Regions from separate parts of the Homo sapiens genome. Here all the other regions are linked to region 3. The links come from fine-mapping of genetic effects on gene expression. A gene starts in region 3. Each other region holds a variant in brackets. All regions are shown on one strand. Distances are from middle to middle. Region 1 has its middle 30 kb from the start of SNORA63E. Region 2 overlaps KLHL6 (kelch like family member 6). Region 3 holds the start of KLHL6 (kelch like family member 6). Region 4 overlaps KLHL6 (kelch like family member 6). Region 5 has its middle 31 kb from the start of KLHL6.

Region 1 (5,105 bases), 72 kb after region 3:
TCTGGACCAGCTCCTTTTCACTGGACGTGCAGCCTTCATACAGGATCTCAGTTCTCTCCCGCCCTCCATAGGCCCATGCCTTATGTTCCGTTCCTGCATGTGGCCACAGTTGAAAACTCTTTGGTGCTGGGGATGAATCCAGGTCCAGTCCCACCCTCCCCAGTCTCCCCACCATTGGCCTGGCTGCTTACCAGTCACTCTGTTTTTCACTTCCATGTTTGTTTACTGGCACCTGGGGATTTTCCTTTTCTCTTTGCACATTCAGATGTCTGCTTTGTTATTGATTCCCACATGAAACGCTGCCTTGAAACCCATGCCCAACCATCTCTACTCATCTGCCTGGATAGAGAATATGAGACTTCCTGCTTATAAATTCTTTGGGAAAGTTAAAGCTGGGTAGAGGGAAAAGGGGGTGGCCTTTGATGTGTAAGACAACTGGAAATCTCCCTTTGTAACACGAATCCTGGTTCCTCCACGTTTGGCAGTGGAAGGAGAAGCTCCCAGTGGGCACGGAAATTTGGACCTCATAGCCCCAACTCTTCCCTGTAAGGAAAGAGTCCCATACACAACTCTTCATTTAATTTCCTAAGGAACATCAAAGACCAGACTGGAACAGTTAAAACTTTACTTATAACTTAAACATAGGAAGGGAAGATACTCTAGATTATGAGGATGACAAGAATCAGCTATCTCTGAGAAGCAATGTTTGTCTTGAGAAGAAGTGTGTGTGTGTGCGCGTGTGCATGTGTACGTATATGGTTTAAAAATAAAAATAAACAAGCTGGACATTAGTTAAAGCAGTGAAAACAAATTTTATTCAGTAACTGCTGACAGTAGCGGAAAGAGCTGAGCTCTATTCTGATTTGTGCAGAGATGCTGACTGGGCCTTTTAAAGGGAGAATAAGGGAGGCAGGAGGTGGAGCGAGCAGGTTCAGGTAGAGTCAGGGAAGTGAAAAATGACAAAGTGTTGGGCAGAGTCAATATGATGAGACCAGCTGTGTCTGCTAGCTGGCAGTTCTCGAAGCTAGGATCCTCTCTCCTTCCTGATAATTACCTTGAGGGGAATGGCTTTCAGGTCCTTGAGAAAGACACCCCTGAGCTGTAGGCAACACATACATAGTAGCTCAGAGCAACAGAGGAAGGATTCACAATGGTAAGCCTCCTTTTTTTAGTAAATGCTCTAAAAAAGCAAGATCAGGGGCCTGTTGTCAGATGTTGGTGGAACAAACTCAATTCTTTTGACAGCCTTAAGCTTTCCCAGACAGCAACTCAAAAGGGGGCTGGGCCATCCCAGGGACGTGGCCTCAGGCTGCTAGAAGCCATGCGATGGTTTGGTGAAGTCTCTGAGCGCAGGGTATGAGTGGAGTGTTGGTACTGAGAGTTTCAGTGTCCCAGGTATACTTACCTTATGAAACAGATACAGTTAAAAGAACAGGTGTGCCCACCACCTGCGCTGCTGTTGGCAGCATTTTAAAAGAGAACTGACCATTTTCTACAATCCACCACAGGCCCACTGTGCGAGGCCAGGAGTGCCGAAGCCCCTTCTTCTAGAATCTGCTGAAGGCAACTAAAGAGAAAAATAGTACTAAAGCTTCTTTGACCCATACAGGCCAGAGCAGTGCTTTCAAACTTTCTTGAACATGTATCACAATAAGAAACACATTTTCTGTATTTCCTATTCTATTTTTTTCTTAAAATGCTGTTCACAAGCCACCAAATTAATTTCATCACCCACTAAATGGGTCACAGGTCACAACCCATATCTGAAAGGTACAAGGCTGGAGGGCACTGACCTGGGCAGACAGGGCAGGGGTGAGGGGAGATGAGGGTGGCAAAGCCTGGTGTATTAGTCCATTTTCATATGCTGTGAAGAAATACCCGAGACTAGGTAATTTATAAAGGAAAGAGGTTTAATGGACTCACAGTTCCACATGGCTGGGGAGGCCTCACAATCATGGCAGGAGGTGAAGGAGGAACAAAGACATGTCTTACATGGCAGCAGGAAGGAGTGCCTGTGCAGGGGAACTGCCCTTTATAAAACCATCAGATCTTGTGAGACTTACTCACTATCACGAGAACAGCACGGGAAAAACCTACCCCCATTATTCAATTACCTCCCACCAGGTCTCTCCCATGACACCTGAGGATTATGGAGCCACAATTCAAGATGAGATTTGG[G/A]TGGGGACACAGCCAAACCATATCATCTTGATTTAACAAAGCGGCAATACACAGAAGGCAGAGGGAAAACCTGACTGCGCAGAGAAATCTGTAAGTCTGGCCTTAGATAAACAGGATTTTTGTTGGTGAAATTCTGTTCTTTGTTTTTTTGTTAGTTTGTTTGTTTTGTTGAGTTTTTTGAGGTTTTTTTTTGAGTTTTTTGAGTTTTTTTGTTAGTTTGTTTTTTTGAGTTTGTTTGTTTTTTTCTGTCGCCCAGGCCGGAATGCAATGGTGAGATCTCAGCTCACTGCAACCTCCACCTCCTGGATTCAAGCAATTCTCCTACCTCGGCCTCCTGAGTAGCGGGGATTACAGGCACCTGCCACTACGCCCAGCTAATTTTTGTATTTTTAGTAGAGACAGGGTTTTGCCATGTTGGTCAGGCTGGTCTCGAACTCCTGGCCTCAGGTGATCCGCCTCCGCCTGCCTTGGCCTCCCAAAGTGCTGGGATTACAGACATGAGCCACTATGCCTGGCCGAAATTCTATTCTTTCATAGTAAAAATGTAGTAATAGGAGCATCTATTGAGTAATTTCCCTGAAACATGAGACCAAGCCAGAAATAGAAAAAAAAAAAAAAAAGAAAAAGATTAGGACAGTGACAAAACTAGTCTAGGAAGAAATGCTGAGGTTTTTAATTGTCAAAGTGCATTCTGGTAGAATGTCACATTCCGGGAAAAGGTCACTGGAGGAATCTGTAGGAAAAATGATGCCTTAGATTTTGTTCTGAGTTCTAAGTAGACATTAGTGAAAGAAGGAATGGGGTGAGTCTTTGTGAAACAATGCAACAAATATTCATTGAGCGCCTACTACGTGCCAGGCATGATTTCTGTCCATCTGTGAACAAAACAAAGCCTCTGCTCACATGAGCTAACATTCTAGTAGAGAGAGACAGGCAAGAATCAAACAAGCATATAATATAATGACAAGTAGAGATAAATGTCCAAAGAAAGTAACTCAGGGGAAGGGTGATGCATGCTACTTGAGCTAGGATGAACACAGCCAACCTTTCTGATAGAGACACTTAAACAGAGGCTTGAGTGAAGAGAGCATGAGAGGCCTGAGAGTATCTGGGGAAGCTTACTCCAGGCAGAGGGAAGAGCTAATGAGGCTCTGAGGTGGGAGGCTTCTGTGTATTTAAGGAACAGTCATGGCTGGGCACGGTGGCTCATGCCTGTAATCCCAGCACTTTGGCAGGCCAGGATGGGCAGGTCATTTGAGGTCAGGAGTTCGCGACCAGCTTGGCCAACATGGTGAAACCCTGTCTGAACTAAAAATACACAAAAATTTAGCTGGTCATTGTGGCATCCCTGTAGTCCCAGCTACTTGGGAGGCTGAGGCAGGAGGATCGCTTGAACATGGGAGGCAGAGCTTGTAGTGAGCCGAGATTGCGCCACTGCACTCCAGCCTGGGTGACGGAGTGAGACTCCATCTCAAAAATAAATAAATAAATAAGTAAGGAACAGTCAAGAGGCCTGTGTAGCCGGACTAAATTCAGAGCCATGGTAGGGAGTCTCAGAGGCCTGTGTAAGCACTTGGAATGTCATCAGAGTAAGGTGATAGCTCTTAAGACAGGTTCAGAAATGCTAGAGACTCACAAATGTTCCACACCTAAGCTTGTGGCTTGCAAATCCAAGTCAGCTATGTTCGCAGGTGCGTAACAGCAAGGAATTGCCACCCTGAGCCCAATGTTTTTATGAATCCAACGTATATTGAGTTTGTTCTCCAAATCCATGCTCTGTCTTGGGCATGATCCTGTTCTGGGCACTCATATTACGGTGGGCTGGGGCTGACTCTCCAAATTGCCTACTCACACACCCTAGGGTTGTTGGGGAAGCCTTTCCAGGAGCTACGATCCCAACTCATTCCCAGTGTAGGTGGAAGGCAGTACTTTGATCATGTGACCGCTTATCCATTCAGCATCTTGGTGACAGTGGGAACATCAGTGCTGGTGTTAGTGGGGATGGGCAAAAGGGGACAAAAGCCAGAACTCTTAAGTTAGTGTGCCCCAGGAAGCCCAGTTAATTTTTGAAAAGATCTTGTTGGCAGCCTAAAATCATGTGACCTGAGATCCAGCACATTAAAAAACAAACTAATAAAAATTTCAATGGCTAAATGCAAACCAACAAACTATTTTAAAAACCTGTAGGCCGGGCGCGGTGGCTCATGCCTGTAATCCCAGCACTTTGGGAGGCCGAGGTGGGCAGATCACGAGGTCAGGAGATCGAGACCATCCTGGCTAACACGGTGAAACTCCGTCTCCATTAAAAATACAAAAAATTAGCTGGGCGTGGTGGCGGGCACCTGTAGTCCCAGCTACTCGGGAGGCTGAGGCAGGAGAATGGCGTGAACCCGGGAGGCGGAGCTTGCGGTGAGTGGAGATCGCACCACTGCACTCCAGCCTGGGCTACGGAGCAAGACTCCGTCTCAAAAACAAAAACAAAAAACAACAACAACAAAAAAAAAAACCTGTAAAAGAACGTGTGGCAATTCAGATGCAAGCTAGAAATTAGGTGCTGAAATTTTTATTTCCAATTTTAGAGACTTCATCTCCCTGGGAGGTGGGTTGCAATCCTCAGCAGGAAGCAAGCCTGGAGATGTGCTGAGGGTTAGAAAAGGCTGCGGCTTTGTTACTCACCTCCACTCTAAGTCACCTCATCCTGAAAGTACAGTAATAATAGACTATGCCTCATAGAGTTTGGGTGAGGATTAGACGAGATCGTACACGTGGAATGCTTAGCTCATCGCCCAACAGATTGTAAATGCACCGCACATGTTAGCTGCTGTAATTGTCCTTACTTGACTGAAGGCCCACGGGGCTGGGGGCTGTTTTCTTGCTGGTTTTTATATCTATAGCACTTAGCACAGTGCCAGGTACACAGTGACACT
Region 2 (5,105 bases), 62 kb after region 3:
GCTTAATTATGTTGGCCAGTATTATCACTACTGTTATTCTTTTTACCAGCTATATGGCAGTCTACCAAATGGATAAACCATAATTTTTTTAGCTTTCTTTTTTTGGTCTCCTTAAAAAATATTGCAGTAGGCATTCTTAGACACATATTTTTTCATACTTGTGCTGCTACTTGGAAAGTTTCCTGGAAGTGGTCATATGTGAATTAAGAATTTTGTATATATTGTGAAATTTTCCTACAGAAAAGTTGTACCAATTTACAGTTCAATCAGTGATGAATGACAGTGCTCATTTTCTATATCCTTGCTAACGATTTTTATTATTAGTCATTTAAATTTTTAATAGACTAGAATGGTAAATATATATTTACCAGATAATTGTATTTATTTTTAAAAATTATCTGTTCATACTCTTTGACACTTCCTATCAGTTTTTGTCTTGTTCTTACTAATTTTTTGGAACTCTTCTTATATATCCTTTGCTATTTGTGTTGCAAATATTTTCTCCTAGACTGTGGTTGTTTTTTACCTTTATATACTTGTTTTCTGTCCTATACAATTCTACATTCATGTCATGCTTAGAAAACCCCTCCTAACCCCAAGGTCATTAACATAATATCCTATACATTTTCCAGTTACTTCTGTAGCAGTAACATTTGAATTTTATTTTAAATGTAATGTAAAATAAGTATCTAACTTAATCTTTATCCAAATGAATAACCAATTGTTCTAATAACATTTATTTAATGATCTGTATATATTTTAGTCCGTTTCTGTGCTCTTGTTTTTAACTGATCAGTTTGTCTAGTACTGCACTGTTTGTATTAGGATAGCTTTATAGTATATTTTAATATTTGATAAGGAAAGCCTCCTTCTTCCCTTTTCTTTTTCAAAAGTTTCTTAGAAATTTTTCCAAACTTACTCTTCCCAGTGAAATTTAGAATTATCTCATCAAGTTCCCCTCAAAAGTCTTGAAGGCACTGAGTATATAGATTAACCTAGGGAGGGTTGACATCTTCACAATAAGGTGTCTTCTGATTTATGCACACAATATGCTTTCTCAGGGTTTTTTTTTTTTGTCCTAAAATAAAATCATAGGTTTTAATAAAGGTTGCATACATTTCTTTGAAAATTTACATTTATTTTATACTTTTTGATGCTACCTAAATGGGATCAATGTTTTGAATAAATGGAGACCTCTGAAAGGTACCCCACCCAAAGGAAAATAGCCAAACTATATGAACAAAAGATTCAAGGAAGAGGAAGCTCAGCTTCCCTCATAGTAAGCGAAAACCAAACTGACATAGTTTTTTTCCGTCAGACTTCAAAAAAATAAATAAATAAAAGAAAGAAAACAAAACCACCACCACCAACAAAAAGTGGGTATGAGGAAAAGTCAACCACCACAGCTGCGGAGGATGCCTTGGCTGCACCTATAAAAATTCAGGGTGCACATGGCTTTGACTTAGTAAACCCACTTCTGGGTTCCATGCTAGAGAAACACCCCTGACACAGAATGTGGTCAGTAATGTTCATTTCTCCACTATTGCACACATGTAAGTCTGAAAAGTAAATCTTTGCTTTAAGTAGTTGGTGGTAGTCTATGCTGATGGGAAAATGGAAACACAAAGCTGTTAAATATTTGATTAAAATCACCCAAAAAGTCAGTTCTCCTTTGTCTTTGTCTCTTTCCCCAGCTGCTGAATTTTGTATTTTCTGTTTTTTAAGAGAGTTGCCTTCAAGAAAATGTTTACCAGATCACTCTCAAATGATCTATTGTGAGCATCTCATACTTTTATAACAAAAATTATTTAGAAATAGGATAAATCCCACTGATTGTTTTAAACAGATCAGAGCGACAAACCAGGAGAATGTTGTAGGATTTCTTAGTGATTTTTCCAGGTCTGTATCTTTGCTTTTTGGTTTAAATAAAAAGTAAACATAGAATTTAAGCTGCCATGTAATTTGCCTTCTGCACAAACCCCACTGTCCCCGCCCAGCCTTGCTTCCTGCTCCCTGTGAGGGCAAACACTGAGTCCAGGCTCCCTCTGGTCCCTACCCACCCAGGCTGGCTTGGGTCCTGCCCCCTGAAGCCTTCTCAGGGCACTGCTCACTTAGCCACCTCTTCTCTGAACTCTCGCAGCACTGAGGTGGACATGACACAGTGTGGCACATCATCCATTCTGTCTCTCCCTGTTCCCCTGCATTTGCCTCATCTCCCCTGCCAGACATCACACACCTGCTGGGTTTCTTGTATCTCCCCTCAGGGTAGGGCTGGCCTGGGGACCTGGCACTTTTGGACATGTGGGATATTATGGGAGAAGCTGTATTTCTGACACATCTGATGGTTTCTTAAATGCTTTGTATCTCTTGCAGGTGGCAAAGAAACACAGCATGATGTTTGGAAATATAATTCTTCGATCAACAAGTGGATTCAGATTGAGTATTTAAACATAGGCCGCTGGAGGCATAAGATGGTGGTGTTGGGTGGCAAGGTCTATGTGATCGGAGGCTTTGACGGCTTACAGAGAATCAACAATGTGGAGACCTACGACCCCTTTCACAACTGCTGGTCAGAGGTATAGGACACGATTTCTACCAGTAACTGCCTGTATTATTACTTCAGTGCTTTTTTAAAAAGCTTTGGAACGTGCCTGCCGTGGTGGTCAGCTTTCTGATCACTTTACTTCCAAGGAGAACAGTTTTGGTGGCTCTGAGCTTCCCTCCTCCTAGGAGCTATTGCTTCAGTATTGCTGATCAAGTCACAGAAACAATGTCCTTCCAAGTGGTGAAGGTCTGTGTGGGCACCTGTCCTAATTTGGACAGAACCCCAGATGTGCACAGAGGCTCACCCTGTCCTTAGATGGGAGATCTCTTGGTCTGCATGTCTTGGTGTAGAGTCTTGTCTCCTCAGATGC[C/T]TTCTCTCCTATTCTTCTCCACACTGGACACATGCGGATCACTTTACTACACCGTTTATGAACCCAGAGTGATTTGGTCATGTTAGAAATCATCCCTTCTTTATTTTCCCATGGATGATGAGCCACTTACAGGCCTGCATGTCAGACTTTAGTAATGCAACCTCAGGTATATATCAGACCCAGGAAAAGAAAAGCCACCTCATCTCATTTCCAGGTTATTCCCAGTTTCAAATTTTCTTTCTCCTTATCAGATCAGATGTCCAAGCATGTTCCAGCTTAATGGAATGTACAACACAGTCATTGTAGGCACAAGCAAAGGTAGCCAGGTCACCACATCTAGCCAAGACTGTCAGCCTGAAAAGTGCTATATTGAGAGCCCTTAACATGTATGGGGGACATGCCCAGGATCTTCTCAAAACAAGCCCTATCACAGAGCTGCTCCACGATCTAAAAGGATCCTGTAAATAAATGGGCAAGAGGCTCTTGGAAGTCTCCTTTACTGTCCTGGGGTTCACAGGATAGAAGCACACGTCTGACTTAATCTCAAAATCCTCAATGCTGCCCCATAATGGAAGAGTCTGCTTACCTGTGGCCACCGTTTCAGCTTTTCTTCCTAGATATAAGCACCAAGGAAAATCAATGCTGGTACATAGTAGGCATTCCATAAATATTTTTCGAGTGGATGAGCACATGAATGAATATGAATATGCATGTATAAAACATCATTTTCCTCCCACACTGGCTGACTTCATCTGTATAAACTTATTCTTGCCTGAGAGCTGGATTCCGGGAGAGGCTGGCACATCCCAACACACAGCTTGCTCTAGCTTGCGTGGAGCCTGGAGGGAGGGTGGGAAATGCATGCTTTCATTCTTGCTGTGTCTTAAGAGGAGTCAAGCCCATGGGCCTTGTGACTATAGGCAAAAGATGCCCAGTTCTGTGTCCCGGAGCTCTGTCCTGTATCCTGGGAGCTACTGCAGCAATCTGGGCAGCATGACTGACAGCTTCTTCTTGTGCCCTGTGCCTCTACAGGCCGCACCCCTCCTTGTCCATGTCAGTTCCTTTGCAGCCACCAGCCATAAGAAGAAGCTGTATGTGATCGGGGGAGGGCCCAATGGGAAACTGGCCACAGACAAGACTCAGTGTTATGACCCTTCCACCAACAAGTGGAGTTTGAAGGCGGCCATGCCCGTGGAGGCTAAATGCATCAATGCAGTGAGTTTCCGGGACCGCATCTATGTCGTTGGTGAGTAATGGCTTCTTATTGGTCTGAATGGCTTAGAACCTGATGAGCGCCTGGCTGCAGCACGTAAACGGTGTGTCGCGGTGTCTCCAGCGCTGGCAACTCACTGCCCCTAGGACCCACTCTGGCTTTCAGGAGAGCCATCAATCGACTGTTTCTCTTGGCAAGAGGGTAGACTTGGCCTAATCAGAAGTTGAATTTTAGTGGTTAAGAGGGAAGAAACCAGAAAAATGGAGCGATGCCCACCGTGTTTCCTCCCTCTCCTCAGGTGGGGCCATGAGAGCGCTGTACGCCTACAGCCCGCTGGAAGACAGCTGGTGCCTGGTGACCCAGCTCAGCCACGAGCGGGCCAGCTGCGGTATCGCGCCCTGCAACAACCGGCTCTACATCACCGGCGGGCGGGACGAGAAGAACGAGGTTATCGCCACGGTGCTGTGCTGGGACCCCGAGGCCCAGAAACTGACAGAGGAGTGCGTCCTGCCCCGGGGCGTGTCGCACCACGGCAGCGTCACCATCAGGAAGTCGTACACCCACATCCGCAGGATCGTGCCCGGAGCAGTGTCTGTCTGACGGCAGGATGGGGAGCTGGAGAGCCCCCCCGACCCTCAGCGTACCCGCCTCACCTCTCACCCTCCTCCAGTCCCACTTCAGGCAGCAGGCTCGAGTTTGAGGCCATACATCAGGGGATCCCCTTGACTCACTTTGGGGGAACCTTGGAAGTCACAGTTTGGGGTCACTTGAGACCGGCCAGGAATGTTTGCATGACCTACCTCAGGAGGGGAGGCGAGGAAGAGTAATATTTAGCATTCAGGACCCACCCACCCTATGCCGGCTTCTGTGCCAGGCACTTCCTTTTATCGGTTCATTTAACCTGGTGACTGGCTCTTATCACTTCTAGTTTACAGGTGAGGGAACCAAGTTTCACAGAGGCTAAGTGGCGTGCCCCT
Region 3 (5,105 bases):
GCCCTCCCATTCATCAGGCTAGGAAGTCAGACACAGATGAAACATTAAAAAGAAACAACGTTTCTTCAAAGATTAGGTCAGATCGGAAAGTAAAAAATCTGCCCTCCCATTCATCAGGCTAGGAAGTCAGACACAGATGAAACGTTAAAAAGAAATAACGTTTCCTTAAGTGACTCCTTGCAATTATAAATGTGTCATAAGGATACCCTTCGTGGGTGACTACTTATTCTTACTGAGAAAAATTGTTTTCTAAAAATCACAGACCATCAGAAACTTTGTTGTTTGCCATTGTGTCAGTAAGAATGAGATCTCATAGTTGTCTGGAAGATCTAAATCACTTTGACACTGGGAAGCAGTCTCAATTTCCAACTCAGATACGGGGCTTCTGAATACAACATTCCACATCTATCTCAATTTTGTAGTTTCCAGGGAGAAAAGACTTTGGGTCCACTGTAAAGTCTAGACTTAATGTTTATCCTTTTACAGATAGTCCCACTGTGCTTTGAACCTATCTTGATACTGTTCATTTACATTTAACCTAAACTTGGGGCAGGTGCGGTGGTGTGAGCCTGTAGTCCCAGCACTTTGGGAGGCCGAGACGGGTGGATCGCTTGAGCCCAGCAGTTCAAGACCAGCCTGGCCAACATGGCAAAACCCTGTCTCCACTAAAGATACAAAAAATTAGCCAGGTGTGGTGGTGCATGCGTGTAGTCCCAGCTACTTGGGAGGCTGAGGCAGGAGAATCGCTTGAACCTGGGAAGCGGAGGTCGCAGTGAGCTGAGATCGCACCACTGTACTCTAGCCTGGGCAACAGAGTAAGACTCCGTCTCAAAAACAAACAAACAAACAAACCTAAACTCCAAATTTTCTTGTAATTTTTATTAGAGTAAAATAAACCTATAAATGTATTCGGAAAGAATTGGTCCTTTTAATAATATTTAGTCTTTCCATAAAGGAACTTGGTATATTTATTTAAGTTTTCTTTCGAAACTCTTAGTAAAGTTTGTTAGTTTTCTTTATGTTGCTGGTTGCTGTTATTGCTAGGCATTTACATATGTTTTATTACCATTGTGAATGGCATTATTTTTCCATGACTTTTTTTTTTTTTTTGAGGCAGAGTTTCGCTCTTATTGCCCAGGCTGGAGTGCAATGGCACAATCTCAGCTCACTGCAACCTCCACCTCCCGGGTTCAAGCGATTCTCCTTCCTCAGCCTCCCAAGTAGCTGGGATTACAGGTGTACGCCACCGCGACTGGCTAATTTTTGTATTTTTAGTAGAGATGGGGGTTTCACCATGTTGCTCAGGCTGGTCTTGAGCTCCTGACCTTGTGATCCCCCTGCCTTGGTCTCCCAAAGTGCTGGGATTACAGGCATGAGCCACCACGCCCGGCCGTCAGGTTTCTTTATATGCTCCATTATAATCTTTTGGGACCACAATTGTATATTCAGTCCATCATCGATTGAAATGTCATTGTGCTGGGCATGACTGTACTTGTGACCGTTAATTTTAGATGTCAAGTTTACTGGGCTAAGAAATACCTAGCAACCTGTTAAAGCATTACCATGGGGCGTGTCTGTGAGGTTGTTTCCAGGAGAGATTAGTGAGTCTGAGTGGACTCGGTAGAGAAGATACACTCTCAGTGTGGGTGGGCACCATCCAATCAGCCAGGGGCCCAGAGAAAACAAAAACAGAAGAAAGGTCGATGTCTCTATCTCCTGAGGCTGGGATACAGTCATCTCCTGCCTTGAACAACAGGACTCCAGGATCCCCTGCCTTTGGACTTCAGGACTTACACCAGTCTCCCCACCCCCTGGATTCTCAGGCCTTTGGCTTTGGACTGAGAGTTATACCATCTTCTCTGGTTCTGAGGCCTTTGGACTTGAACTGAGCTCTCAGCAGTCTGTCATGCGACTTCTCAGTCTCCATAATCACGTGAGCCAATTCCCCTAATAATTTCCCTCTGCTATGCCTCTCTAGGTATCCTTTTGGTTCTGTCTCTCTGGAGTCCATCATCGACTGAAATATCATTATGCTGGGTATGACTGTAATTGTAATGGTTAATTTTAGATGTCAAGTTTGCTGGGCTAAGAAATACCTAGCAACCTGGTAAAGCATTACTGTTGGGCGTGAGAGAACGCTAACTGATACGCTCCTATAACTTCCCCAGGATATCATGGGATTTTAATAATGACAGTTATTACTACTTAACTGAGACATGCAGAGGTAATGAAAATACTTCAGGATCCACCGTTAGATGCACGGTCAGTAGATGTTGGGCTAATCTGAGACGTGCTATGGCAATTCGGTGTAGACCCACCCTGACTCATCCTCTGAGAAGATGCTGTTGATGGAGTTTTGGAAACCATTTCTTCTGTGCCCCCAAAGCATATTCGAAACAATAGACATTTTTTTTGGTGGGGGAAGACATGAAAGTTTGCCATGACGTTGTTTTCCCCTGGGTAGGGAGGAGGATGAAGATAGACGATCTGCAGTGCCGCCAGAAATGAGAATGTCAGGGATAAGTGGGGTTTCCATGGTTTACAAAGCACGGTTGTTGGATCATTGTGGGGTCTCAGACTCCTGGGAGGAGGAAGTGGGAGGATCATAGACTGTCTCCTGTCCATCCCCTCGCTGACGACTTGGGTTATTGAGCCACTAGGAGTACAAATGTGAAGCAGGAGGATTATAGACTGTCTCCTGTCCATCCCCTCATTGACGACTTGGGTTATTGATAGCATTAGGAGTACAAATGTAACAGCCACCACCGGAGGCTTCCTGCTCACGGATATGAGGTGGGAGATGCACCAAAATAAACACACAGCACTCACAGTGGACTCTGAGAGGACACTCCTCTTCCAGAACCCCCTCCCACACACCTATTCTAAGTAATTTCTAACCCTGTGATTACTCACAGAAAGAAGAAGAATAGAAGTTGCTGGCATTTGTAGTAACAGGATGAGAAAGTGCGAGACTTCCTGTTATGTGTGTGTGACAGCTGGTGATAAGTGGAGGGCCCTGCACAGGAAATCCGCTCAGCTCCTGCAATGGGGCCTGCCTGACACTTGGGCGCTCCTTCAGTCTCGATGTTGATGGCAGGACAAAGGGGCGCCTGGACCATGGGTGATGTGGTCGAGAAGAGTTTGGAAGGGCCCCTGGCACCTTCTACAGATGAGCCCTCCCAGAAAACAGGAGACTTGGTCGAGATCTTAAATGGGGAAAAGGTCAAATTTGACGACGCGGGACTCTCCTTAATTCTTCAGAATGGCCTGGAAACCCTGCGAATGGAAAACGCTCTGACAGATGTCATCTTGTGTGTGGACATTCAGGAATTCTCCTGCCACCGCGTGGTGCTTGCCGCAGCCAGCAACTATTTCAGGTCAGCATGCCTAGGACCAGAGTCAAATTGGGTGCAAGTTGCAAGGAAGAGGTGTGTTAGTGTGAGAGCCCAATCTTGAACAGTTGGCCATGATATTTATGGTTTACATATATATTAAGGCTTGTGTGTCTACTTAAAATATAAGAAAGGACACTATCACACTTTATTTTATTATTTATTTATTTATTTATTTTTGAGACGGAGTTTTGCTTTTGTTGCCCAGGCTGGAGTGCAATGGCGCAATCTCGGTTCACCGCAACCTCTGCCTCCTGGGTTCAAGCGATTCTCCTGCCTCAGCCTCCCGAGTAGCTGGGATTTGCAGGCATGCACCACAACACCCGGATAATTTTGTATTTTCAATAGAGATGGGGTTTCTCCATGTTGGTCAGGTTGGTCTTGAACTCCCGACCTCAGGTGATCCACCCGCCTCCGCCTCCCAAAGTGCTGGCATTACAGGTGTGAGACGCTGCGCCCGGCTTATCACACTTTAAATTTTAGGATTTAGGCCACATTAAAAGAGAGATTGGCATCATTTAAAAGCAATGCTTACATTCTATAGTAAACCTTTTGTGTATATTTCCTTGTTCCAAAGGATGGAAAATTACTGAAGTCATGGGGACTTTTTTCCCCCTTGGTCTGACTGGTGTTGGAAACATAATGTTGTCTTTGTTAATCAACAGACATAGAGAAAAAGGATGTGGCCCCTCTTCTGGAGTTGTCAAATGACTTGTTACAAATTAGGGGCTTCTTTATGTGTAGGCAGTGTGGGGAAAGGGAAAGCAGTTACAAAGATGCTTTAGATGGGAGAGGCCTCTAGTTACGATAAACTGGTGATCTCATAGTGGGAAGGCCTGAAGTCAGGAGACTTGGTTCCTTCTTGACAGTGAAACTTTAGGCAAGTCACAAAGTGCTCTGAATGTCTGTTTCATCATCTGTAAGGTGAGCACAATGATGATCACCTTTCAGGGCTGTCATAATTAAACAAGAGCGTGAAAAGGGTCCTACACAGTGTCTAGCATATAGTAAGTAGATGCTCAATATATCTTTCTTGGAATTCTTTTTCTGATTCTGCTTGATTCAGCTAAGGATGACTTATTGAGTGTTTCCCATGAGCACGTCCCTGGGGTAGGAATTTTATAGCGCTGGGAACCCAGTGAATACACCTGATCCAGTGTTCTCCATATCAGCATGGACATGGGGGAACCAGCCTGCAAGGGCAATGTGGATAATGAAGAAAGTATTTGGGAACTTGAAAAGAAATACCCTTAGAATTCTTCTTAATGAGATTCTTCTTAACTCTTGATTCTGGCTGAGGAAATTGAAAACGATTAACCTATGAAAGTATTATGGAAAGCGTTTTCTTTCTTTCTTTTTTTTTTTTTTGAGGTGCTTGGGGGGAAACGTTTCTTTGTAATTCATAGAGCAGGATCAGCAGGTTGCTGTGGGACTCATTAGGTCTCCTGTGTTGATAAGACAAGGGGATATCTGGGTTTGAGGGAAGCAGTGGCTGCTGTGTGCCAGACAGACATAGTTATCTGATTTTATTTTTGTAACAGCATGATGAAGGTGGCTGATATTTCACAGATGAGGAAATGAAAACTCAGCATTATATATCTGGTCATTGCTGGAGCAGGGACTGGGTATGTTCTGGAAATCCTTGTTACTGCAATGCAAGCTGCCACTAGGTCTGGGACTTCATTCCATGGGAAGTGTGTAAAATATAAAGTG
Region 4 (5,105 bases), 39 kb after region 3:
GTGTTCCCATCAGTCTCTCTCTGATTTTTCATTCCTTTCTCACTGACATCAACAAGTCCCCAGTCCTACCTGATTCTGGTCATTGGTCCTTGCAGGTCACTTTGCATTCTCTCTGTCCTGTTTGCAAAGCCTCTTCAGGTCTGGCAATCCTCTCAGCTACATCTGTGCCCCTCTCAAGACAAAAGACACTTCCATTCCCTCTCCTTTACAAATCCAGAGCTACAGGGGACGTGGAGCAACTGCCACAGGGCCCCTTTGTCTGGAAACAATACACTCTCATCTCATCTGCTGCTGCCATACCGGACTGCTGCTTTTCTGCTTTCAGCTCGGCGATCAAGGCACATGTTCTTTTGTTCTCAGATTCACAACCTATAAGGGACGTTTAGCATCCCCCTCACTCTGGAGATTTGGCCTGGGATGGGAAGCAAGGCATCATCTCGGGAACCCACCCCTGCTTCTCACTCTGTTGTTAGACAATCTCTCTCTTGTCCCTCTTCCTTGCCTGGGAATCTTTATTGCCTCCAGGGTGGGAAAAGCTGACTCTTGCTTTGTCATCCGTTCTCTCACGTCTCCTGTTTTGGTATAAACTTTGTACCCAGACTCTTTAGGACTCTGGCTTTTGAGGCTGGAAGGGGTAGGTTCTTACCACTAACTGGTATTTCTTTCAAAACCACTTCTCTAGTTTAAGTTCTGAAAGTCTATTTAGAAACTCAAAAGCCAAGAATTATCTTCTTTTGCCTGCTCTATCACCCCTTCCCTGAGTAAGCCTGTGCTCGGTTGCTGCCTATAGGTTGTAAAATACAGGAAGTGGGGTGTGGGGTTTTTAATTGTAATGAAAATCCATATCGCTACCAGATTCTGACTTTAACTGCTCCCTAACTACCACAAATTACTAAGCATGTTCTAAGTGCAAGGTGTTTTGTGAGAAGCTGTCAGGAGAATATAAAGATTAAAAATGTGGAGTACAGATCACATTTTTGTAGCAATTTTGTCCCCTACATATCCCATTTGATGTTGACCATGTCTCTGTGGGCGAGCAGGCTAGGTAGAACCATCAGTGTGAGCCTGCGAGGTGAGTTTTATGTTCTTAGCACTTTCCAGATGAGAAAACTAGCTGAGAGAGAGAGAGTGTTCAGCTCATCAAGTGGTGGAGCTATGGGTGGAATTTTCAAGTAAACCCAGAACTTCCAACTCCATATATCCACTTCCCTCCACTATCCCTGAAAGATTCTCAATGAGCCTCCAGGCCATTGGGCAAACCAAGTAGAGCCCAGGGCAGAAAGGAGGGGACATTGAATTGGACCTCATAGGATGGTGGCAGTAGGATTGGGAGAAAAGTATTCCAGGCAGAGAGAACCTGGAAGTGGACTTGTTTCAGCCTTCTCTACCCACCACCCCACCTATTGCAGCTGCCTGTGTTCACGGGGCTGCTTCTCAGCACTTGTCTTCTGCTTCCATTCCTGCTCCTGTGCCCTACGCACACACACACAAACCACACCCTGAGCATCAATCATGTCCGAGATGCAATCATTCTACTTAATCTTTACAACAGTGTTTCTCCCTGGTCCTTACCTCATTGCTGGGCTGAATCACTGAGCCCCAGCCATGCCACTTGCCCCTTGAATATGTGGGTCACATGTATTGCCTGTTGTGCCCTGCTAGCCTGCTGGGGCCACCACCGTCTTCTCTGGAAACTCAGGGGCTGTTTGCTGATTGAACACAATTGTAAGCTTGCCACACTGCTGGTCTTTTCCCCAGTCCACTTCCACAGTTGCCTCAGTCCCTCAACACCTGCCCTGCCTTAGTGAGCAGGTCTTTTGCAGGTCTTAGTTCCTTCCTTTTCTGCCCACTCCATGAGGCTTCCAGGAACCAGCAGGTTTCTCAGCCAAGTCTAGAGCAAGGACTGAAAGGAGTGGCTAGAGGGAGCAGAGAATGCCCCTCCTGGGGGACTGTGAGACATACTGCCACGGGAACGGAGCTGGAGCATCGCCCGGGAGAGGGGAAGAGAGGTGAGGATGGAAGATTAGAATCAATGGTAATTCACAAATTTTTAGCATGAAGACCCCTTTTAAACACCAACACAGACCTCACAGGAGAGGAACTTTACTTTTAGTGTCTATTGCTGGAGAAGAAAAGTTTTGACAAAAAATTTACAATTGTCTGGGCACAGTGGCTCACACCTATAATCCCAGCACTTTGGGAAGCCAAGGCAGGCAGATCACTTGAAGCCAGGAGTTCGAGACCAGCCTGGCCAACATGGCAAAACCCTGTGTCTACTAAAAATATTATATAAAAATTAGCTGGGTGTGGTGGTGCGAGCCTGTAATCCCAGCTACTCGGGAGGCTGAGGCACAAGAATCACTTGAACCCGGGAGGTGAAGGTTGCATTGAGTTGAGATCACACCATGCACTCCAGCCTGGGTGACAGCATGAGACTCTGTCTCAAAAAACAACAACAAAAATTACAATGAATTCAGAAATACTTTGAAATAAATTTAAATGTTATTAATCTCATCACACCTTCACACATGCTGATTTGTCGGAGCTGAAGGTAAGAATATCAATGTCTTTATAGACCCTTTGCAATAACGCCAAAGCCACTTGGACACCATGATCAACAGAATTGCTGATGTGGACTAAAATAGGACTTCAGTGATTCTGAAGTGGATTTGAAGGCACCTTGAGGGAGACATGGAGTCACATGGGTGAAGTCCCCTAGGACCTCAGATTTTGGAGAACGTCATGGGGAAGCAGAGGAGGGGCAGTGGAGATGAGGAACAGGCAGTGCTTTCTCTTGGAGGCAGACACTTCTTGTGGGAACTGCAGCCACGTCTCAAGTGGTTTCTTTGATTGTATTTTTAGTCTCCTCATTTGAGAGTCAGGTGGCTGGCTGCAACCTTTTGCTCACATGTCCCCCCAAACAGGAAGCTGGCTGTCTTTTGCCATTATCTGTCATCTCTCAGCTCTGACAAACAAGTTCATGTGTCATCGGGACAGGCC[G/A]AGACAGAAAATTTACCTTGAAGTCTTGAATAATCTTGAATGTGAAGAAGCAAAAGCATATTTAAAAGAAACCCATTTCTGGTTCCCATGATTGCCCTGCGCATCATCAGTTTCCCAGCCATTGGTTGGGATCATGTGATGTTGCCCTACACCCCTCACACTAAAAGTGTTTATTGAAGTATATTTTGGAGGAACTTAGGCAACTTGGAGATCCCCCACCTGCCTCTGTCCTCATAAAGCCTCTTCAGACTCTCCTGGCATTTTGTTAGCTCAACAATGCAACAAGTTACAAAGGCACCACGATGCTGACTGGAGCATCAACTGTACTGCCTCCTAGCAGTGTGAACTTGCATCGCTCTTTGAATTCTCTATTTGCTCCTTTATACAAATGCTAATTCTAACACCTTCCCTTTTTTACCTGTTAAATAAAATACACTTGTTAAAAAATAAAATTTATTTGTTAAGTGAAATAATGACTGGGAATGTGTCTAGCACAGATCTTGGTGCATACTAAGTGATAAATATGTCCTTCCTCTGTCCCTCTTTCTCTTCTTTTTCCAGACTTTCTGCTAGATGCTGCTAGAAATAAATACCCAAGTATGACCTAGAAGCTGCTTTGAGATGCTTGTCTCAACTGACCTTAGTACTCTGGGTGCTCCACAAAAGGGGAAAGCAAGGTGCCCAGTGGAGCACAGAGGAGGGAGGGATTCCATGTTGGGGAATAGGAGAAGCCGTCAAGGAAGAAGTAGCTTTTAAGAATGAACTTCATGAATAGGTAGGATTTCTCTACAATTCTTCTTTTCCTTTTTATTTTTAGTTTTTTAGAGACAGAGTCTTGCTCCGTCACCCAGGCTAGAGTACAGTGGTGTGATCATGGCTCACTGCAAACTTGAACTCCCAGGCTCAAGCAATCCTCCCTCCTCAGCTTCCCAAGTAGCTGGGACTATAGGCATGCAACACCACAACAGGCTAATTTTTACATTTTTTGTAAAGACGAGGTCTCACTATGTTGCTCAGGCTGGTCTTGAAATCCTGGGCTCAATTGATTCTCCTACCTTGGCCTCCCAAAGTGCTGGGATTATAAGCTTAAGCCATTGTGCCCAGCCCTTAAACAATTATTGACCCAGAATTTTAAATGTCCAGAGGTGGGGTTCCAAGCACCGTCTAGTCAAGACTCTGGCTCTCTTCCTCTCTGGATCTTTTGACTTAGCTCTCTCTCTTGTGTTGGTTTTGTACTTAGGTGGAAGGATACCAGGGAGTAACTCACCTGTCCCCTGCCAACTAAGTTCCCAGAAAAATGCCACATGTGCAAATGTTCACATACTATTGTAGGGGTTCACAGACTTTCTGGATCGATCCATTGATCCCAGATGTAATAACTCTGAATCAAGAAAATAGCCCTGGCCGGGCATGGTGGCTCATGCCTGTAATCCCAGCACTTTGGGAGGCCGAGGTGGGCAGATCACTTGAGGTTAGGAGTTCGAGACCAGAATGGCCAACATGGTGAAACCCCATCTGTACTAAAATACAAAAAAATTAGCCAGGTGTGGTGGCGTGCCCCTGTAGTCCCAGCTGCTTGGGAGGCTGAGGCAGGAGAATCACTTGAACCTGGGAGGCAGAAGATGCAATGAGCCGAGATCGTGCCACTGTACTCCAGCCTGGGCAACAAGAGAGAGACTCCATCTCAAAAAAAAAAAATTAAATTAAATTTAAAAAAAGAAAGAAAACAGCCCTGTGTGGATAGAGTCATGGCTATAATATTTATGTCTTCCTTCTTCTTGAGGTAAACTTACAGGGGGATTTCTCTGTTGAAAATGGGGTGAGCTATCCTGAGTCTTTCCTTAAAAAGTTGGGCTCTGGAGTTGGGCTTGTCTGGGTGAGGCGCGTAGGATCATAACAGATGGTGATGATGAGGAAAGGCAGCTCAGGCCGAGAGATGGCAGGAGCGTGGAAAGGCACTGCAACAGGGCAGCTCCAGGACTGCTTGGAGGAGGTGAGGAGATGGGTGCAATTGTGGCTAGAGTTCTGAAAGGGAGGTTCCTGGTGATGACTGACAGCCAGATTGTGGAAGATTGAAGGGGTGGGGGTAGGACTGTCCTTGGTTT
Region 5 (5,105 bases), 31 kb before region 3:
GAATGAATTTTATGTCCCTTGGTTGATTAAACACCTCCAGCTTATAAAAGAGATTAATGAGACCAAGGTGCGTAAGAAATTGGAGAGAAAATTTGTTTAGAGAGATGTGCCCTATGAGTTTTTCCCCATCGTACAGAAGCAGTGGGGGATGCTTGCCCCTCCTGACCAGTGTAGGGAAAGGGGCTTTACTGGGGAGCACTTAGAAGGTGGATCACAGTGGACTAGAGTCTGCCCTTGGCCGGCTAGCTGTTCTAATGGCAGGGAGAAGAGATGGTGCTATGTTGGGGCAAATGATGCTTATGAGTGCTTCCCACGGGCCTGAGGTAGCACTCACAGAGAAAGCAAGCAAGCTTGAGGTTTTCTTAGATCCTGCCCAGGAGGGCTGCTTGGAGAAAAAAACCCAACCACAAACAAGTGTTGGAGATGTACTATTAGATTCCAAGGCAGTGAAAGAGGAATTGTAAGTGACCAGCCCTAGGAGATGCATTTACTTACAGCATGGGAACTGCCATTGTAAGATTTCCAAAGATGAGTCTGAAGAAACCATAATATTGTCCCAAAAGAGAAAGAATAAGCTCTAGATGCCTGGAAAGCCCAGACAGCTCTTATTAGTTTACGACAAGACTAGCCACGTAGGATCTTTCCTGCCCTGTCCCTTTCTACCTCCCCACTCTGCTTCCATTCTAGAGGAACCAGAGGCAGCCAAATGAGCTGGGAAAGAGGACGTCACATTTCAGGTGAAATAGAGGACAGCTGACTCCCACTGGAGGCAGCCAGGCTGGAGCAGAGAGCCTCAACTCTTCATGAATTTGGAATACTTTCTTATTACCATTCATAACGCTTATTGAAATGAGACTCTCTCTTTCTCTCTCTATGTGTGTGTGACCAGCAGTGACCAGATGGCTTTATATTATTTAAGAATGTCCACAAAAGTCACACAATCCCCTTCAGTTTTGTTCAAGGGAGCAGGGAACAACTAGTTCCATGGAGGGGATGGCTTGAACAGGTAGTGGAGGAAAAGAATAAAGTGGTTTTCTGATTACACTGCGTGCTTCCCTCTTGCTCAATGTATCATTAAAACTGGCTATTTCTGCTATCCAACCTTTAAATGAACTTATGCCCCAAGTCCTGTCCTGGGTCTTCTCTCTTTTTCCGTTTCATGGCTTTAACTTCTCCTAAGGGGGTGACTTCCAAATGTGTACCTTTAGCCCAAATATTTCATCTGGGCCCCAGAATCATGAATCCAATTGCCACCGGCAACTTTACATGGACCTCTAATAGGCATCTTAATATGCCCAAATTTCCCTGCCCCATCTTCACCATCTGTTTTTTTTTCCAATTTTTTCCATATAGTTTGTTAAATTATATAATAAAGAGCATAATCTTCCAAACAGTTGCTTAAACCCCACATTGAGGAATCGTTTTAGATTTCTTCCTCGTCCTCCCCGCCTGCATTCAGCTCATGACAAAGTCTTGCCAATTCTACCTGAAGAATATATCCCAAATGCATCCTCTTCCTGCCATCTCTGCTGTCACCCCCAGTCCAAGGCGCCATAATCTTTTGCCTGGACTACAGTCAAACCCTCCTATCTGGCCTCCCTTCTTCCACTTCCCTGTTTAGTCTGTTTTCTACATCACGAGGATGGATTTCTTTTTTTTTTTTTTTTTTTTTTGAGATGGAGTCTCCCTCTGTCCCCCAGGCTGGAGTGCAGTGGCGCTATCTTGACTCACTGCAACCTCTGCCTTCTGGGATCAAGTGATTCTCATGCCTCAGCCTCCCTGAGTAGTTGGGACTATAGGCGTGTACCACCATGCCCAGCTAAGTTTTTTTGTACTTTTAGTAGAGACGAGGTTTCACCATGTTGGCCAGGCTGGTCTCAAACTCTGGACCTTAGGTGATCCACCAATCTCAGCCTCCCAAAGTGCTGGGATTACAGGCGTGAGCCACCGCGCCCGGCCACAAGAGTGGATTTTTAAACATTTAAATCTAATCATGCATGTCACTGCCCTACTTAAATCTTCTATTATTTTCCTTCTTCATGTAGAATAAACTTCAAACTACTAACCATGGCCTAGAAAAGCCTCCATGACCTAGTCCCTGTCTTCCTCTTTCGTTACAACTGACTACTCTCTCTTGCTCACTAAGCTGCAGCTGCTTTTGCTTGACTGTCCCAGTTTCCTGCCTACTTCCTGTTCTCCCTGCCTAGAATGTTCTTCTACTGACTCTTGTAAGACTGGGTCTTTGTCAACCTTCAGATCTCTGCTCAAATATCAACTTCTTGGGGAGGCTTTTTCTCAGCAAGCTTTCTTTCCTTTCCTTTCCTTTTCTTTTCTTTTCTTTTTTCCTTAGAGACAGGGCCCCACTGTGTCACCCAGGCTGGAGTTCAGTAGCACGATCATACCTCATTGCATCCTTGAAGTCCCGGCCTCAAGCGATCCTCCCACCTCAGCCTCCCAAGTAGCTGGGGCTACAGGTGTACACCACCAGGCCTGGCTAATTTTTCTTATGTTTTTGTAGAGATGGGGCCTTGCTATGGTGTCCAAGCTGGTATTGAACTCCTGGCCTCAAGTGATCCCCCTGTCTCGGCTTCCCAAAATGCTGAGATTACATGCATAAGCCACCTTGCCTGGCCCTGAGCACTCTTTCTAAAGCAGGTTCTCCTGCACCCTGTGTTACTCTCTATCTAATCACTATATTTCTTTTGTCCATAGCACTAGTCAAACATTTAAATTATCTCACTACTTGTTTAATTATTGTCTATCTCTTTTATCACAATATAAATTTCATTGAGATAGAGACCTTTCTGTCTTATTCACACAAGTATTCTTGGCACCTAGAATAGTATCTGGCAGATAGTAGGTGCTCAGTAAATACTCAGTGAATAAATGAATGAAAGGGGCAACATTCACCCATGTGTAAGTATCCTCTGGAGGAACTATGTAGACTGAGTTAGATGAGCCCAGAGTGAAACCATAAGACCTTTAAAGCTCGTTCC[G/A]AGGAGAGGATGTTGCTTGAAGGTGTGGTTTCCTCCAACTGAGTGAGCCGCCGCCCTACACCACTGTGTTACCTGGGAAGAGAAGGATAGGAGAATGTTCAGGGCCAGGGGACACTAGATGTTAACAGAAATTCATTTCGTTTTCTTTTGAGTTAGAAGATGAAAGATAAGAAAACTTCTCAAGGCTTGGGCAGCCCCTCTCCAAGAAAATCCTGCTAGAATGGCAAGAAGGGCAATACTTTAAGCATTCCACCCTTTGATGGCCATACAGAGTGACAATCCCTTCCATGCAGAGGGCACAGGTGGACACCTCCCTCCTTGCAATCAGAGCATGTACCTACACTGGAGCCCTCAAGACCTCCTAAGGCTGAAAAATGTCTCGTGCACACCCAACTAATAGAAGATCCACGGTGTCTTGGGTGAGGTTCTGTGAGCCATAGAAACAATGAGAAATTTGGGGATATCATTGTGTATTTATTAATTTTTTATTTTTATTTATTTATTTGAGATGGAGTCTCGCTCTGTTGCCCAGGCTGGAGTGCAGTGGCACGATCTCAGCTCACTGCAAGCTCCGCCCCCCCAGGTTCACATCATTCTCCTGCCTCAGCCTCCTGAGTAGCTGGGACTACAGGTGCCCGCCACCATGCCCAGCTAATTTTTTTGTATTTTTCGTAGAGACAGTGTTTCTCCATGTTAGCCAGGATGGTCTCGATCTCCTGACCTCGTGATCTGCCTGCCTCAGCCTCCCAAAGTGCTGGGATTACGGGCGTGAGCCACCGCACCTGGCCCCATTGTGTGTTTATAACCCCCATCCCCTCCTCACAACCAAATTCAAACTGCAAATAGCAATAGACGCCAATGACTATTTGACCAACACGCTATGGTGGAAAACACATGGGCTTTGGGGGTCAGAGACACCTGGGCTCAAATTCCATCTCTGTCACGTATGGCTTAATGATCTTGGGAAATTTGCTTAACCTCTCTGAACCGTAATCTTCGTCTATGACAAAATTACCCTTTGCAAAGTTGTTTGGGTTCAGTGGTTTGATACATGGAAAGGACCCAACAAATAGTGGTATGATCGTTATGGTGGTAGATTTTTGGCTTACAACTCAGCATGCTAAAACACTTTATAGGCATGATAAAATGCAAAGTCTGTCTTACCTTTCTCCTCCTATCTCTATAAACCTTAGAGGATTTGAGCCTTGTAGAGAAACCAAATATTTTAAAACAAAAAGTTTATTTTCAAATGAATTTTGGTAAAGGTTGATATCCAATGTGTCCATTTGAGCTGGGTTTTTTTACTCAGCAGCAAGAATCCTAATACAGCATGTAACACAATTCTTGACCATAGCAGCAACTCTCTAACTGTTTAACTCTCAACTCTCTAACTGATTGCTGTTGTTATGACTGTTGCCCTTGGTCCATGAAGTCTATGAAGATTGTACCCCTAGCTTCACTGGGGCATTCCTGAAACTCACTGTCAGTATGGTTCTAGAGACAGTTTGATAAGTCCAACTGTCCTTAAACAAAATCTTTGCTATTGGTTCTATCCATAGAGTACACCTGTTTCTACTTCCCTCTCTTATTCACGAAGTCACCCATTGATCCATTCATCATGTCACAAGCTAGGAAAAAGAGCTTCCTGTTAGTTAAATTATCTGATAACAAGAGACACAGGGATTCCTCAGTATCTCCAAAACAGACTCCAGTCGAAGCCAATTGGGAGTGAGAGAGAGGATCTGGTGTTGGTGCTCTGTGAAGGAAGACTCGTTATGTCCCTACAGTTAAGAGTTTTCTTACCTTTGAACAGTGCTTAGATAGGCTGTTCCTGTCCTTTGTTGACAGCTAATGGTTTTTTACAGGCCTGAGCTGATTCATGTCCTGCCTGACCCTGACTCTCACATCAGCCTCCTGAACTCATCTGTACTTGGCCTAACTTTAATTATCTGGTAACAGCTGCTGCCTCCTTCTCTGGTGCAGCCCCAGTCTGGGCCTGGCTTCCAGCTGGCTTCCTGAGAGCAGGCCTCCAAGGGGCTGGAACATAGATTCTGCATGTCTTTGCAGAGGGGTATTTTCCCTGATAGCATATCCCCTTGGAGTGGCAGA

What was found. PIP is the estimated chance that this variant, and not a neighbour inherited with it, causes the effect.
Region 1: its variant is fine-mapped to the expression of KLHL6 in whole blood (TOPMed, PIP 0.99).
Region 2: its variant is fine-mapped to the expression of KLHL6 in whole blood (TOPMed, PIP above 0.99).
Region 4: its variant is fine-mapped to the expression of KLHL6 in whole blood (TOPMed, PIP above 0.99).
Region 5: its variant is fine-mapped to the expression of KLHL6 in T cells (TOPMed, PIP above 0.99). The same link has a PIP of 0.9 or more in blood mononuclear cells and whole blood.

Annotation. Positions count from the first base shown.
Region 1 is chr3:183,481,562-183,486,666 of GRCh38, reverse strand. No RefSeq gene overlaps it. Among named protein-coding and RNA genes, the nearest start is that of SNORA63E, 30 kb to the right of the region's middle. The variant G/A (reference allele first, on the strand shown) is at 2,179.
Region 2 is chr3:183,491,550-183,496,654 of GRCh38, reverse strand. KLHL6 (kelch like family member 6) reads left to right here. Exons shown (of 7, transcript NM_130446.4): 5 at 2,374-2,576; 6 at 3,948-4,161; 7 at 4,427-5,105. The coding sequence ends at 4,728. Among named protein-coding and RNA genes, the nearest start is that of SNORA63E, 40 kb to the right of the region's middle. The variant C/T (reference allele first, on the strand shown) is at 2,916.
Region 3 is chr3:183,553,633-183,558,737 of GRCh38, reverse strand. KLHL6 (kelch like family member 6) reads left to right here and starts at 3,032. Exons shown (of 7, transcript NM_130446.4): 1 at 3,032-3,377. The coding sequence starts at 3,085.
Region 4 is chr3:183,514,267-183,519,371 of GRCh38, reverse strand. All of the region lies in intron 2 of KLHL6 (kelch like family member 6), which reads left to right. Among named protein-coding and RNA genes, the nearest start is that of KLHL6-AS1, 32 kb to the left of the region's middle. RefSeq lists enhancers at 256-756, 2,763-3,042. The variant G/A (reference allele first, on the strand shown) is at 3,001.
Region 5 is chr3:183,584,583-183,589,687 of GRCh38, reverse strand. No RefSeq gene overlaps it. Among named protein-coding and RNA genes, the nearest start is that of KLHL6, 31 kb to the right of the region's middle. The variant G/A (reference allele first, on the strand shown) is at 2,997.